Linked DNA regions of Homo sapiens: regions 1 and 2 are each linked to region 3. Evidence: fine-mapped expression QTL. A gene starts in region 3. Each other region holds a variant in brackets. All regions are shown on one strand. Distances are from middle to middle.

Evidence for each region. PIP is the estimated chance that this variant, and not a neighbour inherited with it, causes the effect.
Region 1: its variant is fine-mapped to the expression of KCND1 in prefrontal cortex (GTEx, PIP above 0.99).
Region 2: its variant is fine-mapped to the expression of KCND1 in whole blood (GTEx, PIP 0.97).

The regions. Positions count from the first base shown.
Region 1 is chrX:48,448,292-48,456,472 of GRCh38, forward strand. It overlaps the pseudogene LOC791096. Among named protein-coding and RNA genes, the nearest start is that of SLC38A5, 18 kb to the right of the region's middle. The variant T/C (reference allele first, on the strand shown) is at 4,959.
Region 2 is chrX:49,754,670-49,762,850 of GRCh38, forward strand. No RefSeq gene overlaps it. Among named protein-coding and RNA genes, the nearest start is that of PAGE1, 63 kb to the left of the region's middle. The variant G/T (reference allele first, on the strand shown) is at 4,779.
Region 3 is chrX:48,967,034-48,975,214 of GRCh38, forward strand. KCND1 (potassium voltage-gated channel subfamily D member 1) reads right to left here and starts at 4,811. Exons shown (of 6, transcript NM_004979.6): 1 at 2,118-4,811; 2 at 1-73. The coding sequence starts at 3,238. GRIPAP1 (GRIP1 associated protein 1) reads right to left here. Exons shown (of 26, transcript NM_020137.5): 25 at 8,122-8,181; 26 at 6,690-7,252. The coding sequence ends at 7,160.

The DNA of each region.
Region 1 (8,181 bases), 520 kb before region 3:
ACTGTAAGAACTCAGAAAGTCAAAATATTTTCTGCCTTCTACATCCCATAAGTAAATACATTTTCCTCTCTCCAGGGCTACAGGTAAAGGATGGTAATTGTGCGCACCACACTTAGATTCCCTTTCAAAAATGTAGTCAGAGGTTGGAGGGCCTTGGACTGTTTTCTTCGGGTTTTTTTTGTTTGTTTGTTTTTTGTTTTGAGATGGAGTTTTGCTCTTGTTGCCCAGGCTGGAGTGCAGTGGCACAATCTCAGCTCACTGCAACCTCTGCCTCCCGGTTTCAAGCAATTCTCCTGCCTCAGCCTCCCAAGTAGCTGGGATTACAGGCATGCACCACTGTGCCGGGCTAATTTTGTATTTTTAGTAGAGATGGGGTTTCTCCATGTTGGCCAGGCTGGTCTCGAACTCCCAACCTCAGGTGATCCACCAGCCTTGGCCTCCCAAATTGCTGGGATTACAGGCGTGAGCCACCACACCCGGTCTGGATTTTTTTTTTTTAGTTGCAACAGATGTAGCAGAAGCCACTGAAGAATGAGCTCCACGACTAAGTACAGCAAACCTCTGCAAAGGTGCTAGTTTGGAAAACATTGTGTCCTTCAAGTAGAAAAACCACAGATCGACTATTTTTTTCTTCCCATGGTTCAGACTAGAATACAGATTTTTAACCCAAGATCCAAGGATGATCTTCAGAGAGTCCAAAATCTCCTGACAGTGCCTGAGGACCACCCGGGACACACACTGTCTACAAAGCACAGCCATGTTCTGTATCTTGATTACGGTGTTGGTTACAGGAGTCTACACATGGGATAAAAAGGCATACACACTATTGCTCCAATGTCAATTTCCTGATTTTGATATTGTACTATAGTATTTTTACACTACTATAATATAGAGGAAACTCAGTAAAGGGTATATGGGACATATCTGTACTATTTTTGCAATTTCCCATAAATCTATATTATTCCCAAGTAAAAAGGGAAAAACATACAATTTTTTTTGAGACAGGGTCTCGCCCTGTCATCCAGGCTGGAGTGCAGTGGGGCAATTATAGCTCACTGCAGCCTCAAACTCCTGGGCTCAAGCAATCCTCCTGCCTCAGCCTCCCAAGTAGCTAGGACTACAGGCACATGCCACCATACCCACCTATTTTTTTTTTTTTAGAGATGGGGTCTTACTATATTGCCCAAGCTAAAAATACATTTCTTAATGAAAGATCAGGATGAGAAACAACAGGCTTATCTGAACACCTGCACAATAACCAAATACAACTTCTAGAAGTGAAAATGGTGATTTAAATAATTAATAAACTTATTAAACTGCAGATTAGACACAAACGAAGAAATAATTAGCGAACGAAAATATAGCTCTGAGGAAAACACACCATTAGAGATAAAGAAACAGAAAATAGGCCAGGCATGGTGGCTCAAGCCTGTAATCCCAGCACTTTGGGAGGCTGAGGCGGGTGGATCACCTGAGGTCAGGCATTCGAGACCAGCCTGACCAACATGGTGAAACCCCATCTCTACTAAAAATACAAAACTTAGCCAGGCATGGTGATGCATGCCTGTAATCCCAGTTACTCAGGAGGCTGAGGCACGAGAATTGTTTGAACCTGGGAGGTGGAGGTTGCAGTGAGCCGAGATTGTGTCATTGCACTCCAGCCTGGACAAGAGTGAAACTCCGTGTCAAAAAAAAAAAAAACAAAAAAGAAATGGAAAATATAAAGATATGGAGGATAGAATGAAAAGAGCTCACATATATTGAACACAAATTCTAGAAAGGGAGAATAGAAAGATTTATGGAGAACAATGTTCAAAGGAATAATGGCTGAGAATTTTCCAGCTTTGGTAAAAAGCATCAATGCTCCTTATGTGAGCTCACCCAGACCTATTACTTTATTATTTAAGGAATTATTCACTAAAACACATGCTGCTTTAATGTAGTTTAATTATAATCCAGTGTTCATAAAGATGATGTCATTTGGAAAAATATTGATTGGGAGCATTTGGGGATCATAAATTTGAAGTGGTACTAAAATACTAGGCCACATTAGAACATGTGGAAAAAGAAAGAAAAAGCAACAAAAATAAAGTTCTAGGCCACAACAACACAAACACTGAAAGAGAAGGAGATTAGAGTTAAAGTAATCAAAGGACATGTGAAAATGGAAACTAAAGTTATCATCAAATTTAAACCTTTTAATGTCAAGTAATGATGTTTAAAATGTTTAATGTTGCTAACACAAAGTAAATGGTGGAATAGAGAACTCCAAAAATCTATGCCTCTATAAAAATCAGTGAAAAAACTGGCAAAAACTGTCAGGATCAACTTTTTCAGAACTTTGAAAACTAACCGAAAGCTTGTAACAAGCAGAGGAATGTTTAATCAAGAAAAACCAGCTGAGTGGCTCACGCCTGTAATCCAGCACTTCGGGAGGCCAAGGCAGGCAGATCACCTGAGGTCAGGAGTTCGAGACCAGCCTGGCCAACATGGTGAAACCCCGTCTCTACTAAAAATACAAAAATTAGCCAGGCGTGGTGGCACGTGCCTGTAATCTCAGCTACTCAGGAGGCTGAGACACGAGAATTGCTTGAACCTGGGAAGTGGAGGTTGCAGTGAGCTGAGATGGCACCACTGCACTCCAGCCTGGGCAACAGAGCAAGACTGTCAAAAAAGAAAAAGGAAGAAAAAGAAGGAAGGAAGGAAGGAAGGAAGGAAGGAAGGAAGGAAGGAAGGAAGGAAGGAAGGAAAGAAGGAAGGAAGGAAGGAAAGAAGGAAGGAAGGAAGAAAGAAAGGAAGGAAGGAAGGAGAAAAACCAGCTGAATCTCCATAAGAACAGTAAGCTTTGTGGTATTTTAACTTACCCTTGTCCCATCTCCTGCTCCCAGCTTGGTGGTAGCCCTGAAGATAATGATCTGCATTCCCAGTACAGGTACCAGTACCAGAGAGAAAAGAATGGACCTTATTCACAAAGAATTACAGTTGTTTGTTTTGACTTGTCTGGTGGTTCCCTGGAAGAACCCACTTGAAAGGCTTGTCTTCATTTGACCTCACTCAAACTGATGCTACAACCTGGGGTAGTGAATAGCAGTTGAGGCAAACAATACATCAACCAGCAAGCTTAAAAGGAAAGGCTGGAGGCCAGGCATGGTGGCTCATGCCTGTAATCCCAGCACTTTGGGAGGCTGAGGCAGGTGGATCACGAGGTCAAGGGATCGAGACCATCCTGGCCAACATGGTCTCTACTAGACACCCCATCTCTACTAAAAATACAAAAATTAGCTAGGTGTGGTGGTGTGCACCTGTAATCTTAGCTACTCAGGAGGCTGAGGCAGGAGAATTGCTTGAATCCAGGAGGCAGAGGTTGCAGTGAGCCGAGATCGCGTCACTGCACTCCAGCCTGGCAACAGAGCAAGACTCTATCTCAAAAAAAAAAAAAAAAAGAAGAAGAAGAAGAAGAAGGAAAGGCTGGAAAATGGGGCTTGAATAACTCCAACACATGCCTGGGAATCTAGAAGGCCACACACATACGCCCTGGGCTGCAGCTAGGCGAATGCCCACAGAAGAACTAAGTAGGCTTTAATCTCTCACCTCTGCAGACCTCGAGGCTCTGAGCAAGCAGGAAGAGAAAGATAAGGCAACGTTGTAAACTGCCAGGCTGAGTGCAGAAGGTATGTCCCAACACATACACAAATCCCCTTGGCAAAGACTGGGAGACATACTGGTTCCAGGCATTTAAAGAAATTTCTGTTCAATCATTAGTGGCCACTAAGCTAACCAAGAGACTTCAGTGGCCACAGAGGACAAGGAATAGAGACTACAGAATTTGTTCAGGAAAAAAACTAGACAAACTTGTGTTTTGAGACAGGGTCTTGCTCTGTCTCTCAGGCTGGAGTACAGTGGCACTAACACGGCTCACTGCAGCCTTGATCTCCCAGGCTCAAGCAATCCTCCAGCATCAGCCTCTGAGTAGCTGGGACTATAGGCATGCGCCACCACACCAAGCTAATTTAATTTATTTATTTATTTATTTATTTTTTGAGATGGAGTCTCACTCTGTCGCCCAGGCTGGAGTGCAGTGGTGCGATCTCAGCTCACTGCAAGCTCCGCCTCCCGGGTTCACACCATTCTCCTGTCTCAGCCTCCCGAGTAGCTGGGACTGCAGGGGCCCGCCACCACGCCTGGCTAATTTTTTTGTATTTTTAGTAGAGACGGGGTTTCACCGTGTTAGCCAGGATGGTCTCAATCTCCTGACCTCACGATCCACCTGCCTCGGCCTCCCAAAGTGCTGGGATTACAGGCGTGAGCCACCGCGCTCGGCCAATTTTTTTTTCTTTTTTAAGAGACGGGGTCTCACTATGTTGCCCGAGCTGGTCTCAAACTCCTAGGCTCAAATGATCCTCCTGCCTTGGCCTCCCAAAGTGCTTGGATTACAGGCATGAGCCACCGAGCTCAGCCTAAACAAACATTGAAAACAAACAAACAAAACAGCAACAAGAAACCCCAGGGAAGGGACAGAATCTGGTTTCCAGAGTTGCCACATTATATTATTTGAAATGTCCAGTTTTCAATAAAAAATTATGACACCTGCAAAGAAAGAAGAAAATACGACCCATCCACAGAATAAAGAAAAAAGACCACCTATAGAAACCATCCCTGAGAAAGCCCAGATGTTGGGTTTTCCTTTTTTCTTAATGTATTTTATTTTATTTATTTATTTATTTTGAGACAGAGTTTTGCTCTGTCGCCCCGGCTGGGGTGCAGTGGTGCAATCTCGGCTCACTGCAACCTCTGCCTCCCAGACTCAAGCAATTCTACTGCCTCAGCCTCCCAAGTAGTTGGGACTACAGGCACCCACTACCACACCTGGCTACTTTTTGTATTTTTAGTAGAGACAGGGTTTCACCATATTGGCCAGGCTGGTCTTGAACTCCTGACCTCAAGTGATCCACCTGCCT[T/C]GTCCTCCCAAAGTGCTGGGATTACAGGTGTGAGCCACCACGCCCAGCCAGATGCTGGGTTTTCTAATAAAAAGACTTTAAATGAGCTATTTAAAATACGTCCAAAAACCTCAAAGAAACTATGTCTAAAGAACTAAAGTATAGAAACAATATCTCACCAAATAGAGAGTATCAATACAGACATAGAAATATAAAAAATGAACCAAATAGAAATTTCTGGAGTTTAAAAGTGTAATAATCAAAATGAAAAATTCATCTTCTGCTGATGCTAGGAGTAGGGACATTGCCCTCATCTCTTTTTGGGGTTCTTTCTGTTAAATATGAAGACTTGCTTTTTTTTCTTTTTGAGACAAGGTCTCACTCTGTTGCCCAGGCTGGAGTGAGTGGTGCAATCACAGCTCACTGCAGCCCTGAACTCCTAGGTTCAAACAACTCTCCCACCTCAGCCTCCCTGAGTAGCTGGGACTGCAGGTGCAAACCACCATGCCCGACTAATTAAAAAAAAAAAATTGGGGCTGGGCGCGGTGGCTCACACCTGTAATCTCAGCACTTTGGGAGGCCAAGGCAGGCGGATCACCTGAGGTCAGGAGTTTGAAACCAGCCTGGCCAACATGGTGAAACCCTGTCTCTACTAAAAATACAAAAATTAGCTGGGCACGGTGGCGCATGCCTGTAGTCCCAGCTACTCAGGAGGCTGAAACAGGAAAATCGCTTGAACCCGGGAGGCAGAGGTTGCAGTGTGCCAAAATCGTGCCATTGCACTCCAGCCTGAGCAACAAAGCAAGACTCTGTCTCTAAATAAATAGATAAATAAATAAATAAATAATAAATAAATAAATAAATATTGTGTAGAGACAGGATCTCACTATGTTGCCCAGGTTGGTCTCAAATTCCTGGCCTCAAGTCATCCTCCTTAGCCTCCCAAAGTGCCCAGATTATAGGCATGAGTCAAGACTTGCAGTTTTAAGGCCAGGTGCTGGAATTTCAGGTTACCATTATTATCAAAAAGAATGGTTTGTTGAGCTTAAGTTTAGTGGCAGTAAAGGGAGTGGACAAAGCTATATAAGAGCAATGTTTTGTATAGTATTGAAATTAAGTTGGTATCAATCTGAACTAGATTGCTAAAAATTAAGATGTTATTTTTAATCCCTAGTATGGTCTGAATGTGTCCCCTCCAAAACTCAGGTGTTGTCAATGTGACAGTATTAAGAGATAGGGTCTTTAAGAAGTGACTAGGCCATGAGGGGTTCTCCCTAATGAGATTAGGTGTCCTTATAAATGAGATGGAGGGAGTTGCTTCTCTCATGTCCTTCTGCCTTCTGCCATATGAGAATGCAGCAAAAAGCGCTGACCAGATGCTGGTGCCTTGATCTTGGACTTTCCAGCCTCCAGAACTGTGAGAAAATAAATGTCTGTTCTATACAAATTACCCAGTCTGAGGTATTCTATCATAGCAGCACCAAAAGACTACTAAAATCCCCTAAGTAGGACTTGCATCCCAAGGAAGTGTAAGACTTCTGCACTGAAAACTACAAAACATTGCTGAAGGAAATTAAAGACCTAAATAAATGGAAAGATAGCCCATTTTTCATGGATCGGAAGATTTAATGAAGTACTGATACATGCTGTGGCATGCATAAACCTTGAAAATATGCTAAGTGAAAGAAGCCAGACACAAAAGACCACAGTGTATGATTCCACTTATATGAATGCCAAGAATAGGCAAATCCGTAGGGACAGAAAGTAGATTCATGGTTCCCAAAGGCTGGGCGGAGTGGGGAGTTACTATTAATGGGTATGAGGTTTCTGGTGGGGGGGGGTTGTTGTTGTTGTTGTTTGTTTTTTTTGTTTTTTTTTTTTGTTTTTGAAACAAGGTCTCACTCTGTTGCCCAGGCTGGAGTGCAATGGTCCAATCCAGCTCACTGCAGCCTTGAACTCCTTAGTTCAAGCAATTCTCCCACCCCAGCCTCCCTGAGTAGCTGAGACTGCAGGTGCACACCACCATGCCCAGCTAATTAAAAAAAAAACTTAGGGACAGGATCTCATTATGTTGCCCAGGTTGGTCTCAAATTCCTGGCCTCAAGTCATCCTCTTGCCTTGGCCTCCCAAAGTGCTGGGATTACAAGCATGAGTCATCGTGCCCAGCCAAGACTTGCAGTTTGAAGGCCAGGTGCTGGAATTTCAGGCTACCGTTATTCTCAAAAAGAATGGCTTGTTGAGCTTAAGTTTAGTGGCAGTAAGGGATAAAGAACAGTGAAACAAGGAGCATATAGTATTAATCAACTACAGACAACTGCCCTATTTGTAAATAGAAGCAGGGAAATAATATATATGTGTAGTAGCTTATAAATGCGTAAAAATTATCTGGGAGGATAAGCAAATGTCTCTCAAACATCTAAAAGCTTCCTTCAGGCTGGGTGCGGTGCTTCATGCCTATAATCTCAGCAATTTGGGAGGCCGAGATGGGTGGATCACTTGAGCCCAGGAATTCGAGACCAGCTTGGGCAACATGGTGAGACCCCGTCTCTACAAAAAAATACAAAAAAGGCCGGGCGCAGTGGCTCACACCTGTAATCCTAGCACTTTGGGAGGCTGAGGCAGGCGGATCACGAGGTCGGGAGGTGGATCACGAGGTCGGGAGATCGAGACCATCCTGACTAACATGGTGAAACCCCGTTTCTACTAAAAATACAAAAAATTAGCCAGGTGTGGTGGCACACATCTGTAGTCCCAGCTACTCGGGAGGCTGAGGCAAGAGAATCACTTGAACCCGGGGAACAGAGGTTGCACTGATCCGAGATCGTGCCATTGCACTCCAGCCTGGGAGACAAGAGCAAGACTTCATCTAAAAAATAAAATAAAATAAAATAAAATAAAATAAAATAAGCCGGGTGTGGTGGCATATGCCTGTGGTCCCAGCTACTTGGGAGGCTGAGGTAAGAGAATCACTTGAACCCGGGAAGTTGAGGTTGCAGTGAGCTGTGATCTCACTACTGTACTCCAGGCTGGATGACAGTGAAACCCTGCCAAAAAAAAAAAAAAAAAACCTTATTTCATAAATACGGCTCATGCCTGTAATCCGAGCACTTTGGGAGGCCAAGGTGGGAGGATCACTTGAGCCCAAGAGTTTGAGACCAGCCTAGGCAACATAGAGAGATCTCATTTCTACTGAAAATTTTAAAAATTATCCAGGCATAGTGGCGCATGCCTGTAGTCCCAGCTA
Region 2 (8,181 bases), 790 kb after region 3:
TGGCTCATTGTCTATGCACAAACTGCAGTGCTACAGAAGCAGGTAGCATTTATGGCCTTCTGTTTGTTTGCTGTCACTTTGGTACCTCAGCTCTGAGGTTTCCTTTGAGGAAGAGGGAGTGGAATGTATGGAAGTTTTGACAGAGAATTTAACCTCCTCTTCTTAGAGAGTTTAAGGGGCTACTCTCTAGAATGATCCCGTCTGACATTTAGATAACACTGGATTCTGTTCATCTCTTGCAGAGGAACTTACCAGCAGGGCCTCTGTCCAAATGCAGGAAACATGAACAGAATCCCCAGCTTGCTTTCTCCCACAGGACTCTGAGAAATAATCATCCTGTACATGCTCCCATTTGACGCCTTTTAATGGAACAAATTCACCATTGGAAATATGCAGGAAGTTGATTTCTTTTATATTTTGCCATCTTTAACCAATCCCTGGATAGGTTTTCAAAATCTCATTGAAGAGAAATATTTGGATGAGATTGGGGAAGTGGAACTCAGGTTTCTCTTGGTATTTATAATTGGGTAGAATCAAGGAAACCTAAATGGCCATAATGTTTTACCTTTACCCTTTGCTATGGTTTGAATGTGTCCCCCTCAAAATTCATGTGTTGGAAACTTAATTCCCAATGCAGGAGTGTTGGGAGTTGGGACCTGATAAGAGGTGATTGGCTCTGCTCTCATGACTAGATTAATGTCATTATCATGGAAGCAGGTCAGTTATTATGACAGTGGGTTGTTATAAAGTGAGTTCAGCCCCTGGTGCCTCCCTCTGCCTTGAGCACTGGTTTCACCTCTGCCTTCTGCTGTGGGATAACAAAGCATGAAGGCCTTCACCAGATGCTAGCACCAGCCTCTTGGACTTCCCAGCCTCTGGAACCATAAGCAAAATAAACTTCTATTCTTTATAAATTACCTAGTCTGTGGTATTCTGTTATAGCAGCAGAAAACAGACTAAGACACTCATGAAATATATATAACAAACCAGCGTTATGTGCACATATGCACAAATGCACTCATACTGGAGGATACAGTGAGTGTTTGAGTTTTTATATCTTGTAGTTGTTCATGCAAGATGGTTTATGGAGTTGAAATTTGTCATCCATATAAGTAATGTACTACTTGAAATTGGACAAAGTATGGAGAAGAGCCTTAAAAATCATTGAAAAAATGAGGTGAGCTTAAAAGAATTTAATATGTGTAGCTCAGGGAAGCTGCTGTTTAGGAGAAGTGGGAATGTGCCTCTGCTTCAGGACTGTAAGTCCCCAAAGAGTAATTTGCAGGCAGTAAGAAGGCACTACAGAGAAGGAAATGGGCAGAAAGGAATTGAAGTGTGTCTTAGTTTGCTCAGGCTTCCATAACAAAATATCACAGACTAGGTGGCTTAAACAACAGACATTTATCCTCTCATGTTCTGGAGGCTGGAAGTCCAAGATCAAGGTGCTGGCTGATTTGGTTCTGGTGAGGGTTCCAATCTTGGCTCACAGATGGCTGCTTTCTTGCTGTGTCCTCATATAGTCTCTTCTTTGTGAGCAAAGAAGAAAAAGAATGAAAAAAACAAAAAAAGAAAGAAAAAAGAAAAATAAGAAAAGGAAAAAGAAAGAAGAAGAGCAAGAAGAAGAGCTCTGTTATCTCTTCTTTTAAGGACCTGCCCTGATTTAATTGAGGTTAAATAACTGTATGACTTCATTTAACCTTAATTACCTCCTTGTAAACCCTATCTCCAAATACAGTCGTATTGGGGATTAGGGTTTCAACTTATGAATTTGGTGGAGAAACAATTAATTCCATAGTAGAGTGGAAGCTATAGGCAGTAGAATGACCTCCCAGGGAAACAACGGGGACAGTGATGCTATTCCTGAGGAATTAAAAGTGCATTGGGCTGGGCCAGTTCCACAATATGCTGTAGGAAGGGCTTCCTTCCCTCCTGGCCCTTTGGAGATGTGAGGAAGGGACTGACAGACTAAAAGCTTTAGGTTGCTTGGGAGATATCGTCTGATAAAAACTTTAATCTGGTAACCTTCCTCTCTCTTTCTCTCTCTACCTCTCACTCTCTCTCTGTCTGGCTCTCTTAATGGAATGCTAGTGTATTCTTATTAGGAAGATAGAACTTGGTTAGGAAGGAAGGAAGAAAAACGGCAGGCAGGCAGGCATTGGAGCCAGCAGGACTGGGAGATCACAACCACAATCTCCTGGGCAAAAGAAAGGGGAAATGAGAAGCAGTGCTTTCTCAGTCATGCGAGTAGTTACTGGCAGTTTGTTCTGGCCAGCAGAACTTCTGATATCATGGCTATTGAATAACTTATCATCAAAGTTTAATGTGAAACCAGGTGACTGATAACTAAATCTAGGAACAGAAATAGAATCTTCATTTTTTCTGCCTGAAGAAACTTTTTTCTGTCATTTGATTTAAAGGCCAAAGGCTATTCACCATACCACTGAGAATTATAAAACCTTTATGAAAACTCATCACAGTGTTGAATTGAATGTGTGATAGAGAGGAAAGCTGGGATAATTTCAATCCTTACCCGACCCATCTTAATAAGGTAAAGACTCCTGTGAAAGCTACCATACTCAACGCAGTGAGATCACAGCATAGCCGATTTTTTTTTTTTTTTTTTTTTTTTTTTTACCTCTTTCTAGGTTGAATGGAAATGAGGCAGTAGCCAAAGGGGATAGAAATAAACGTTCTTCTCTTACTGTGATTGTGTGGATCTGATGGGCTTTTCAAAATGGCACATGGGTCAGTGTTTCTTGGAGCCTGGACTAGCATACCCTCCCGGCATCTTAAGAGAAACAATCTCCAGGCTTGGTAGAAGTCCTTGGCTTTCTTGCTTAGAAATGTCAGAAGCCAATGAATATTTACATCCCCATCTCACCTTTGCTCTGATTTGCTAATCTGATCCTTATCAAATTAGGCCAAAAGGAAAGCAGTTAGAAACTTGAACTTCCATTGTTAGATAAGTACCAATCTCTACATTAAGAGCTATACAGATACTTGTAAATTTCTCACTGGGACACAGAATTGGTACATATCTCCAGGTGATCCTCTTCTCTCAGCATGTATATTCTTCTCTCATGTAGAAATCAGTTGCTTTGATGGTCAGAAAGAGACAAAGAGAAACAAATTCATCAGTCTGTATTATATCACAGTAGAATACAAGGCTAGAAAGTAGGTTCAACCCTGTTGGAACCCAGCCGGTCTGCTGCCCTCGCTGAGTTTCAGGGTCCCTGTCTGCATATCTGGAAAATAAGTTCATCTTTCCTAAAGACCCATCCAATCTTTGATTCTATAATCATAAGTAGGGTGATAAGATTTTATTTCCTACTTAGAGGGCCACCTGGAGAGTACATTCTGCTTTAATTTTCTGTTTTGGTGATGGGGAATTTGGAGCCATGCATGGTTATGAAAGGCCCAGAGATGGAATCTCATCTCTGATTCAAGGCTTTGGTTCCTGGCTTCCTGCTGTATTACTTCAATGAAACCAAACCTTTTAGGGCATATGTCTGCACATATTGGCCTACTCAAAATGCCATTCTATCCTGGGCGAGGTGGCTCACACCTGCAATTCCAGCACTCTGGGAGGCCAAGGTAGGAGGATGGCTTGAGGCCAAGAGTTTGAGACCAGTCTGGACAGTATAGTGAGATCCAATCTCTACAAAAAATAGAAAAATTAGCTGGGCTTGGTGGCATGTGCCTGTAGTCCCAGCTACTTGGGAGGCTGAGGTGAGAGAATCCCTTGAGCCCAAGAGGTTGAGGCTGTAGTGAGCTATGATCGTACCACTGTGCTCCAGCCTGGATGACAGAGCAAGACCCTGTTGCTTAAAAAAGAAAAAAGAAGCAAAATGCCTTTCCGAATGATCCCATTGACTGGGCAGAAATGTTACATTGTTAAAATATTTTGTGCCAGCCGCAGTGGCTCACGCCTGTAATCCCAACACTTTGGGAGGCTGAGGCGGGCGGCTCACCTGAGGTCAGGAGTTCGATACCAGCCTGGCCAACATGATGAAACCCTGTCTCTACTAAAAATACAAAAAAAATTAGCTGGGTGTGGTGGCGGGCGCCTGTAATCCCAGCTACTCGGGAGGCTGAAGCAGGAGTTTGAGACCAGTCTATGCAAAATGGCGAAACCCTGTCTCTACTAAAAATAAAAATTAGCCGGGCATGGTGGTGCATGCCTATAGTCCTAGCTACTTGGGAGGCTGAAGCAGGAGAATCGCTTGAACCCAGGAGGTGGAGGTTGCAGTGAGCCAAGATTGCACCATTGCACTCCAGCCTGGGCAACAAGAGTGAAACTCTGTCTCAAAAAAAAAAATTTTTTTTGCACAGTCTTCTCCATGAGATTTATACTCCTAGAGAGCAGAGATAACAACAAGCCTATAAGGCAAGGTAGTATTGTTTTATTTAGTGCCTGCCTATTACCAAAAGAGTTTGAAGCAGTTTATACTAAAAACATAAGAAGAATAATCTTAGAAACCCAGGAAGAAAATTTGGGCAGAGAAGTCTCTGGGAAGCATCCCAAAACTAATGGCTACTGAAAATAAACCTCTCTAAACCCTTCTCTGTCTTTCTCTCTCCTTTCTTTTTCTTTCTCCTTCCCTTCTTGATTTGTATTGTGTTTTCTCAATTAATTATTTTCTCTTTCCTATCCCTTCTTTTTTTCCTATTTGGTTTCAGACGAATTGAGCCAGGTTTCTGAAACCTGAAGCCAAAAGCACCTGTATTAGTCTGTTCCCACACTGCTATAAAGAACTACCTGAGACTGGGTAATTTAT[G/T]AAGAAAAGAGGTTTAATGAACTCACAGTTCCACAGGCTGGACAGGAAGCATGGCTGGGAAGGCCTCAGGAAGCTTACAATCATGGCAGAAGTTGAAGGAGAAGCAAGCACCTTCTTCACATGGCAGAGCAGGAGGAACAGAGAGCGAAGGGGGAAGCACTACACGCTTTTAAACCATCAGATCTCATGAGAACTCACTATCAAGAGAACAGCAAGGGGGAAATCCGCCCCCATGATCTAATCACCTCCCACCAGGTCCCTCCCCAATACTGGGAATTACAATTCAACTTGAGATTTGGGTGGGGACACAGAGCCAAATCATATCAGCATTCTAATGGATACATCAATCGATTTTCATGGCATGACATTAGGTATGAACTATTATCACCCCCATTTTACAGATGAAGAAACTGAGGCACAGAGGGGTTGAAGATGAAGACTTGCCTAAAATCAAATGGTAAATGGTGGAGTGAGGATTTTGATGAAGATAGTCTGAAGCCAGTAGCTACATCATTAATTATTATAATATATACTGCCAAGTATGAAATCAGATTTTAAACCAGGTCTGTTTAACTCAAACCCCATTGATCTTGACTATTAAACTATGCTCCCTGTGATGAAAATGATGATGACCATGACAATGACAATAACAGTAATAATTATAACTGACATTTATTGAGCTTTTATAGTGTGTCAGCATTAGTCTAAATATTTTTTAAAAATCAACTCATTTTCACAAAAACCCTATGAGTCAGGTACTACTATTATCCACATTTTAGAAATATTTATTTCTATTCATATTCACAAACAAGTATAGGTCATTTAAAAATTCTAGTTAAGACGTAATTCACATACCATAAAACTTACCTTGTTAATCATTTTAATTATTATTTGATTAAGAAATAATACACATCGCCATAAAATTTACAACTGTATACTTTGTACAATTCAGTGATTTTTGTATGTCCACTATGTTGCACAGCCATCACCACTGTCTAATTTTAGAACATTTTCATCACCCCTAAAAGAAACTCTGTATCCATTAGCAGTCACCCTCCACTCAGCCCTTGGCAACCACTAATCTACTTTCTGTCTCTATGGATTTATCTGTTCTGGACATTTCATATAAATGAAATCATACAATATGTGACCTTTTGTGTCCAGCTTTTTTCACACAGAACAGAGAAAAACAGCTACCATTTATTGGTTGCCATGACTACTATGTCCTACGCACTGTTATTGAGAGCTTTGTGTGCCTTATCTTTAATCCTCACAATAACCCTGTGGCAGAGTAGCACTATCATCTTCATGTTAATGAGGAGACCGAGGCACAGAGCTGTTCAGTAACTTGCATAAAGCGCAGCAGCGCATACATGGAAGAGTTAAAACGCAAATCCAGGTCTGTCTGTATCCAAATCCCATACCCTTTACATTCCATCTTTCTGCCTTAGCGTCACATGGATGTGGGCCAGTAATGTGGTGGCATTGCAGCCAGGGCAAAGGAGTTGAGCCAACCACGTGGTGCTGAGAAGCATAGCCCTAAGATCTCCTGGACCTGGTGTCTTTTAGTGGGGTGGGGGCTGGGGATGCCCTATCTCAAGCCTGTGCTCCTGACCCCAGTAAATTTGCCTGCTGAGGTCCTGCTTGCTTACTTCTTCCTGCAGCTTCTTGGCGGCCCCAGCTGCAGTCTTTGGTTTTACTCAATTTGGATGTGTAGGTTACAGAGTTTGTATGGTAGAGTGTCTGTATTTCTTCATCTGGCTTTGGTTACACGTGGAAACATGACAAAGCAAGTCAAGCTTTCTATGAAGAGAAGGACAAAAATTCACTGAACTTATTCAAGTATTCCCCTGAAGTCTGCAGCTCAGGCACATTTCCATCTGGAGCCCATTGAATAGCACCAGCTCCCCTTCTCTGGATGGGCATCTGAGGATGAACTTCTGGTCTTAAGTGATCCTCCACCTCAGCCTCCCAAAGTGCTGGGATTGCAGGTGTGAGACATTGCACTTGGCCCAAAAGCAGATGTTTATACTAATAGGTATGGACAATGAAGAATTAAGTGGTGATTTCCATGCTCTTTATAAGATGGCAGAGAAATGAATACTACTTTTCTAAAAATAGTGCCTGCCAAAAGAGTTTGTTTCAATAATTTGGAAAATGCAGGTCCAAATGGCTCATTCTTTCAGATTGCTGAACTGATTTGCTGTTATTGCGGCTAGAGGCCTCTAAGAGTCACTGTTGAGCTCTCAGAGGAATGTAGAAGCTGACAGGAAAGAGAGGGTCTAGAAGGAAACCTTATCTTATATAACCAGAAAATATTTATCAAATGTGACGCATTAATCTTGATACAATATTATTAACCAAACTATAAAAGTTATTCAGATTTCATCAGTTTTTCCAGGATCCATTCAGGATTCCCCATGGTATTTATCATCTTAGTCACATCATGTCTCCAGTCTGTGACAGCTCCTCGGTCTTTTCTTGTTTTCCATGACCTTGACATTTTAGTGGTCAGGTGTTTTGTAGGCAGTCCCTCAATTTGAGTTTGTATAGTGGTCTGTCATGATTAGAATGAAATAGAAATTTCTCATAAGACTGAAATAGGTTTAAGTTAGTGGAGCCCTCTTGGGGCTAAATTTAAGAAAGGGAGAAGTTAATTTTCTTTGCCCTGCTGCACCTCCTGCATCTTGCCCTCCATTCCCATCTCCAGTTCACTTCTCTCTGCCCTCAGTGGCCAAGTCTTAATAAACACTTATGCTTGCTCTGTGTCCAAACCAATGATAAGCGCTTGGGGCACTGCAGATGGAAGGTGTCTGCCTCCATTCCTCTTTCTCTTCTTTCTTTCCATTTCTTTTCTTTCTTTCTTTTCCTTTCTTTCTTTTTCTTTCTCTCTCTCCTGTTTTTCTCTCTCCTTCTGTCTCTCTGTTTCTCTCTCTTTCCTTCTCTCTCTTTCTCTCTCCTCCTCTCTCTGTCTCTCTCTCTCTCTTTCTCTCTGTCTCAACAGGTGTCCTCAAACTCTAGGAATGAATTCCAATATCCTACATTGTGACCAGAAGGAGGCCCCACAGTACTCCTTCTGAAAGGGTTTGAGCAGAGGGCAGTCAGTCCCGCAGCTGTAATTCATCATTACACCACTCATTGTGTGAAACACAATAATGTCCCATTAGCAAAGTATTAAATCTGAAATGTTTGTACTGAATTCTGGAGAAACTTCCTGAGGTTACCTTCCCAACTGGGTGGTGTGATGTTTCATCTCAGTGGTTCTGATTTTTCTTACTTTCGGTGGAAGGGGGAATAGTAACTTAGTTTTCTGGAGTTTCCAGAGGGATGGGAAATATTATGAAATCAACAACGTTGCAGCTCAGAACATGATCCTTTCAATTTTCACCAGTGGCTAAAATTT
Region 3 (8,181 bases):
CAAGACGCCACTGAGTGAGCAGATGGACCCGAAAATCTTGCCAGCAATGGTGCTGGGCACCATGTCTCCGTAGCTGGAGCGAGGGGAGGTAGGCCAAGGTCAGGAAAAGTGCCCACCTACCTTTCAGTCCCCCACTCCATCCCATCTAATCCGGACTAGCTCTGTGACCCTGGCCAGGCACTCAAACCTTCTGAGTCCCTCAGTTTCTTGCTCTGTAAAATGCTGGGTGGCCAAGTGAGAAATGGGCCTGGCCCTCAACCCCTACCATCTGCTGCCCCTGTCCAAGCTACATACCAAGCACCTGAGTCAGCTAGAAATCTATGAAAACCAAGCAGAGGGGAGCATGAGGAAGTCACAGGCAGTGAACACAGCCTCCTGGGGAGAGAGTCCCAGCACCACAGGCCAGCCGAAGGGCTTCAAGTCCCGGGAGGAGTGTTTTGTTGGTTTTGGCTGCCTCTGTCTTACCTGCTCTAGGTAGGACCCCTTTTCATTCCCCTATAGGGGAATCCTTGAAAACTGTCCACATATGACAAAACAGGGAGGAGCCTTGAAACCCTCCTGCCTTTCTCCATGCCACCCACCTCCCACAGAGACAGAGCAGAGCCAACCTTACTAACTTGTTCACAGAGAGCTCCCCTGAAGATCAGGGAGATTCTGTAACTGACTCGCCCAAGATCACACTGCATACTCTTGTTCTGACCGCAGAACCAATCAGAACTCCTCCAGAGAAACACAGCCTCTGCAGTCTTCAGCCTCTAAGCCTTTTCTCAGGCTGTGCCCTAGGATGGCTGTTCCTTATTTCGGTATTTTCACTCATTTTAAGCATTCAGGACTCTGCTCAAAAGTCTTTCCAACTTGGCCATTGCTGGCTCTGTGATGTGTCATCTCAGAGCGTGTCCTCAACTGTGAGACATGGGCAGCCATCCACCATCACAGAGTTGTTGTGAGGACTTGAATAGAGTAAAAGCCATCAAAATACTCAGTTCCAGCCCACTGTCAGCGCTCAGTATTTGTTTGTCAGTCTGATCCTGGACCTCCAACCAGAATTGGGGTTTCTACGCTTTAGAAACCCCAAATCAACTTTTTTTTGTACCTCTATGAAGAAACTGAGCAAACCCAATTCATTCAGTCATTCCTTCAACAGATACTGAGCACCAACTGTATACCCAATCCCAGTGATGGAAACTTAGAGAAGGATCACAGCATCTGCCCTAGACAGTATCTTTGGAAAGCTCATGAGTTCGATGATTCCATTTGATACTTTTATCCCAACTCTGTTTCTTCTGCAGGGATCGACAAAAAAATAATAATAATAAAAATGCTGAAAACATCTTGTTCTGGGAAACATCAAGGAATCACAAAGGCTCAGAAGTAGTGCCCCACACAGCAGACAATTCTAGAAGGTTGGGAGACATGGGTCCCCAAAACAGAAAAAGGTGCTAGAAAGCCAACACCTATGTATCCTGCACCAGAAACATTCAGAGAACTTTCACAACTATGATGTCATTGAATCCTCTCTAGATGATGAAGGGATCAGCATTTCCCATTTTACAGAGGGGAAAACTGAGGCCATGAGAAAACGACATCAACAGAAAGAGAGCAGCTAAGACAATCCTTGAACCCAAGTCTCCTGACCTAGAAAATCAAGGCATTGTCAGAGCTGGGAGGGATCTGAAGAATTAAGTCCAGCTCCCTCAGTTTGTACAGATGAGCAAACTGAAGCTCAAAAAGAGAAAGAGGCCAGGCGCGGTGGCTCACACCTGTAATCCCGGCACTTTGGGCGGCCAAGGCGGGCGGATCACCTGAGGTCAGGAGTTTGAGACCAGCCTGGCCAACGCGGTGAAACCCCGTCTCTACTAAAAATACAAAAATTAGCTGGGCATGGTGGCGTGTACCTGTAATCCCAGCTACTTGGGAGTCTGAGGCTGGAGAATCACTTGAACCCAGGAAGCAGAGGTTGTAGTGAGCTGAGATCTTGCCACTGTACTCCAGCCTGGGCGACAGAGTAAGACTCCATTTAAAAAGAAAGAAAGAAAGAGATCATTCCTTTAAACTTCCTAATTTTACAGAAAGGGTGAGTGTAATCGGGCAGCCCCCAACGCAGAGTCCACACTCACCCAAGCGTGGTCATGGTGACAATGGTATACCAGAAGGCCGCAGGGATGCTTGTAAAGTTGGTCTTGTTTGTGCCCTTCTCAGCATAAAACATGACAGTGGCAAAGATGATGATGGCCATGGTTAGGGAAAAGAGGAGAAAGCCCAGCTCAGAGGCACAGCTCTTGAGTGTGTAGCCCAGAATCCTCAAGCCCTGTGAGTGCCTGGAGAACTTGAAGATGCGAAACACCCGGAACACACGCAGGGTGACAAAGGCGCCAGAGACATCGTCGTTCTTGGGCACCAAAAGCCCAATGTAGTAGGGCAGGATGGCCACCACGTCGATGAGGCTCATGACACTCCGCAGGAAGCGGCAACGGCTGGGGGCGGCAAACAGCCGCAGGAGGTATTCACCTGTGAATATGAGTACACAGGCTGTGTCCATGCAGAAAAAGGCCTGTGGGAAGCGTTCGCCACAGGGCTGCTCCCTTGAGGACCTGCGTGCAGAGCCGCGGCATGGGATGGTCTCCACCACATTGGCGATGACCGACACGGCGATGAAGAAGCCGGTCACATAGTAGAAAACGAGGGCTGCGGTGCTCGTGTGTGGATTCTCGAAGGCCCGCCAGAGCCGCTGCCGCAGGGAGCTGCCTGCTGGCAGGGCTGGGCCGTCCCCGGCCTGCTCTGCCTCCTCATCCTCTGCCAGGCGCTCGGCATTCTCCTTCTTTCGGTCCCGATACTCTTCAAGGCAGCAGTCACCGACTAGCTCGGGAACCAGGCCGTAGAAAGCCAGCTCTTCGTCGAAGGCCTGGATGCACTCCTGCCGTGGGCAATGCAGCCGCCCCGTTCGGTAGAAGTTCAGCACATGGCGGAACATGTCAGGGTCGCGATCGAAGAAGTACTCGCCTGAGTCAGCATCGTAGAAGAATTCCTTCTCCGAGCTGCCCAGCAAGGTGTCTGGGTAGCGGTCCAGCGTATTCTTCCAAGTCTCAAAGCGCCGTCCGCTCACGTTCACCACCAGAACCTCATCTCCTCGAGATGCCTTCACCCCCGGTGCCGGGGGCAGGGGTTGCTGGGCCAGGGGCAGCCAGCCCACTGCTGCTGCCCGAGCAAAAGGCAGCCACGTGGCCAGGCCTGCCGCCATCGTGCCACTCCCCAAGCCCAGGGAGACTTAGTGAGGGTGGCGTTTAGGAGAATGTGGCTGTCTCCAGGATGGTGGGGGCTTGGAGACACCTTGAGCCACCCAAACAAGGAAACTGGGGGTGTCTAGAGAGGCCAAGAGGAACCAGGAGGAAGAACTAAAGAGATGGGAAGGAGTCTGGGGGACATTTACAGAACCTAGGAGGGGCCTGGGCAATGTTCTGAGGGACTGAGAAGGGCCTTGGGGACATGGAGAAGAGCAGAAAAGGGGTGTGGGGATGGGGCCAAGAAGGAGCTGAGGGAGGGTTTAGAGAGACTGAGATGATTCTAAAGGAGTCAGCCTGTGCCTGAGAGGTGTCTGGGGGCGTCTAGAGGGGCCAAGAAACACGTGGGGAATTCTCTGCACTCTCAAGAGTCTCAGGGAAGGCAGAAGAGCCTGGAATTCCTTTGCAGTGGTGGAGAGGAGACTGGGGCATCCAGAGGGGTAGAAATGGGACCAGAGGTGCTTGAAAGAGACTGAGAGTGCCTGGAAGTGGGGGTTCTAGAGGGGCTGAGACAGGTGAGGAGGGTTGTCCACACCCTCAAGACTTCTAGGGGAAGCATAAGAGGGTTAGACCCCCCTCATGGATCTGGAAAGGGAGCTGGTGCATCTTGAGGGGTGGCTGTGGATCCAGGAGGTTGTAAAGAGGCTGAAAGGTGTCTTGGGACTGCCTAGAGTTGCCAAGAATAGCCCGGGGGGGTGTCTATACTCTACAGGAGTTCTGGGGAAGAAAGGAGAGGCCAGAGCCTCCTAGTAGGGCTGGAGAGGGGAAGGGGTTATCTAAAGGGGTAGACAGGGGGCTGGGTTATTTTTTGAGAGGCTGAGAGTTATCTGGGGGAGGTGGGTATCTAGACGGGCCAACAAAGCCTGGTCGACACTCTCAGGAGTTCTACAGGGAGGAAAAAGGGGCCTGGGGAATTCCAAGGGCCGGGACTCAAATGTTAGGAAGTTGGGCACAATCCCAGAGCACCCAGGGGATCTATGAAGACTAAATAAGAGGAAGGGGGTTAACCCCAAAATGGGATTAAGAGGGGGGTGGGGTGTTGAAAGGGAGTTGGGTGTGTCTCCAGGGAGGGGGGCTCCTGGGCTTTGCAGGAAGCTGGCAGGAGACGCCGGGAGAAGGCTGGGTCCCACCGTTGGGGGCAGGTCTGGGGAAACCACACCCCGAGGGGCTGGCGGTGTGTACTGGGCAGTGGCAGTAGCAGCAGCGGCAGCAGGAGGAAGAGAAGCAACCACAGCCAGGCATAGGAGAGAAGGTGGCATAGGCAGGGGGAGGGTGCGGGGTCCCTGGAAGGAGGCCTGGGAAGGGCAAGGTCCAGTGGGACCCCTGGGGACTATCCCAGGATGGGTTAGGGCGTGGGGGCTGGACCAGGGAAGGATGAGGACAGCGCTAGTGGTGGTCCCCCTCCCCCTCTCTCTCGGGGCGTCCTCACCTGTGTCCCCGCTGCAGGAGCAGCAACAGCGGTGGGGCTGGGGGTACCAAACACCCGAGCTCCTGGCCCCCTCTGCAGAGCTGCCTGAGTTCTCCTCCTCCTCTGGCTCTCTCTCCCCGCCCCTCTGAGCTTGCCGGGAGATGGAGAGGCAGGGAGGGGCCTCGTGGCTCCCTGAGCCCCCTCCCCTAGGACAGCCAGAGAGGGACCCTGGGGAGACTCCGCCTCCTACAAAGCTGGTTGGGCCTCAGTCGCGTCATCTGGAAAATGGGGGTGGCAGGGAACTTCGCCAATTCTCTCCACCTCCTTCCTGGACTCCCCTCTCTTCCTGCCCAGCTCCTACCCGCTCTGCCCCCAGGGGCCCCCACCCCCACTCGCCTGAATCAGCAGCACTTAGCAGATCCGATCGATGGGAAGGCGTCTGTTAATGGCCCCAGAGCGGAGTGCCACAGGGAATGATGCAGCGCTGTCCCCTCCCTGCCCCCCAGACTGTGGAAAGGCAGGAGAGCCAGGAGTCGGGGGTAATTGCTGGGGAGTGTTTCTCTAGATGGCCAAGCTTCCGAAGCCGCCCCCTTGAGGGGCGCAGCATGGGTTACAGCCCCAGCTCTAAGACTTCGGCTGTGGGATTGGAGCACGGGACTTCCTGTTTTTAGATATGAAATGAGGGTAAAGGGAATGTAGAGGGGGACAATCCAGGTCCCACCCCCCTACCATCTCAGGCAGGCCCCACTCCGAGGGGGTAGTCTCTCTTATCTGTCCATATCCAGTGGCCTCAAATCACACCTCCTCCGCTAGAGGGCTCTGCTTCTGGATGGCAGGAGCACTGATTATGGAATGCCTCTGGCTGGCTATGGGTGGGTTCAAACCCCAGCTTTGCCACTGACTTGCTGCATCCTTGAGCAAGTGACTTGCATTGTTTCCTCAGTTGTCAGATGGAGAGACTTATCCCAACTTGATAGCGTCATTTGGAGCATTACATGATGTGAAAGGTGATAGCACTGGACACAGCTCACACCAGGGATGCTTAATCTTAATTAAAGGAGTGTGATGACAGGGGCACTGTAATGCAGGGCCAGGCCTAGCCTTTCACCCAAGATTTACCCACCCGTGTAAACTTCCAATTGCCCATTTGGCACACTCCTGATTTGTCCATTTCTACATCCATTCCTCCACCTACCCATCCACCCATTCTCCCACCCACACAATCAATTCCTCTATCCATCCCTCCACCCACCCGTCCACTTAGTCGTTAATCTACCCACCCACTCATTCATCCATTTGTAAGTTCACCCCATTTGGCTGTTTGCCAATCTATCTGTATGTATCCATCCTCTGCCCATCTCTTCCCACCCGGAACACATGCAGGGTGACATCCTCTGCCCATCTCTGTCCATACATAGCTCCACTTGTCATTTCTTCTCCCACTCTTTACCCTTCCCATTCATTAGCTCATCTACCCATCCATCCATTCCCCCAACCATTGGTCCATTTACTCCTAACCTGTCCATAAACCCATCCATCCACCTGTCTACCTAAATCATCCACCCATTTGTCCATAGACCTATTATCCATCTGTCCATTTACATCTCTACTATCCATCCTCTATCCACCTACCAATCTATCTACCCATTTATTCATCTAACCACCTATCCATCCATCCATTTATTTCCCAATCTATCCATCATCAGTCCATGCAACCGTTCACTTATACATCCATCGGTCCATCCAACCACTTATCCATCCTCCCATCTGTCTACTCATCTATACCCACAATCCCATACATGTCTACCCATGTACATATCTGCAGGTATTTCAGCTCCACTCAGTTTGAGGGGCTGGTCAGCAGTAAATGGAGACAGGCTGGATGAGGGTGGGGAAAAGAGAGTAACGTTGCAGCCAGAGACCTCTCTCCCTATTCCAATGGTGTAAACCTCCCCGCCCCCAGCATATTCCTCCTGGTTGAAAAGAACGAGACGAGACAGTCAGTGGGTGGGCCCGTCTGGCCAGATGGTATTTTGGCTGCATAGCCTTTACACACACACACACACACGTGTTGCTAGAACGCTGAACATGGACCACACACCCACCCAGCATCCCCAATCCCAAATGCAGAGTAGCCAGGCTCCAGACATAAATTAAAAAATAAAATAAAATAAAATAAAAAGAGTTGGTCTCTGGGAAGGAGAGCTCATGCAGAGATGAAGACAGAAGCCCTTGGGAGCCAGGACCAAGAAGAAGGAGAAATCCCTGCCCCTTCCCTCAGGATCCCCACTCCCTGGTGGCCTCTGCCCTAAGACAGGATCATTAACACTAACCATCAGGCCTCTAGCCCCTTTAATGTCCAGTCTCCCAAGCTATTTGATTTTGGCTCCAGCCCTCATTTTTCCACCACAGCCCAAGGGAATAGCATCCTAGGGGGTAGGAAGGGGAGGAGGTGGGTGCAGCCTGCAGGTCTTTAGCTGGTTTCTCCTGGCTCTAGGTCTGGGTCAGGAGGCCCCACGCACTCCTTGCTGAGCCGCACAATTTCCTGGGACAGAACTTCCATATCCTAAGAAACAAATGAACCATCAGGGGCCAGAGAAGGGGACAGGCTGCTCCCTTGCCAAACGTAGGGTATCATCTGTGATTTCCCTCACACCCTTTCATTAATCAATGCTCAGCTGTGTCTGGCCTGGGATGAGAAGGTACTTGGAGAAGCTCACAGCACCCCCAACAGTGGGCAGGGCTCAGAAAAGTCATGAGGATGGGTGGGGAGCTACAGATAATGGGAGTGGGATGCCTCCTGTGGCATGGTGCTGCTGCAGGATACACCACCACTCTGGCCACCTGCTCTTCTAAGTGTGAGCTTGCTTCTCAAAGGCAGGAGCTGGGTCTGACCCCTTTCTAACTCTCAGAGATGGGGAAAGTCCTTGGGTGGCAGTTTGGGCAGAAAGATGTGTGTGTGGACCCATGGGCATGGGGGATCTATGGTAGACAAATTGGTGGACGAATGAATTGTCCAGAGGACAGATGGAGATCAACAGGTGGGCAGGCAGGTAACTGGGTGGGTGAAAGGTAACACAAGGGGCAATTGATGAGTAGATAAGAGAATGATATGTCAAGAAATGGGTGGCAGGACATGGGGTAGACAATGAGATAAGTAAGTAGTAGATTGGGTAGATGGACAGATGGGCAAATGGTTGGGTGAATGTGTAGATAAATGGATGAGCGGGTACATGGAAGGAATGAATGGATAATAAGTTGATGAGAGGGTGGAAGATGAGAGCATGATGGAGTAGTTGATGAGTGGGTAGGAGGATAGCTGGGAGGACAGGCTGGGTGGGTGGGCAAGGGGACTGGCAGATGACCCAGGGGCTATGTGGCTGGGTAGGCAGGTGGCTGGGTGAACAGATGGGTAGGCTGGCAGGCCACACTTGCCTTGTGCAAGTGCATATTCTTGGTGAGCTGCTCCTCCAGCATGTTCTGCAGCTTCTTGTT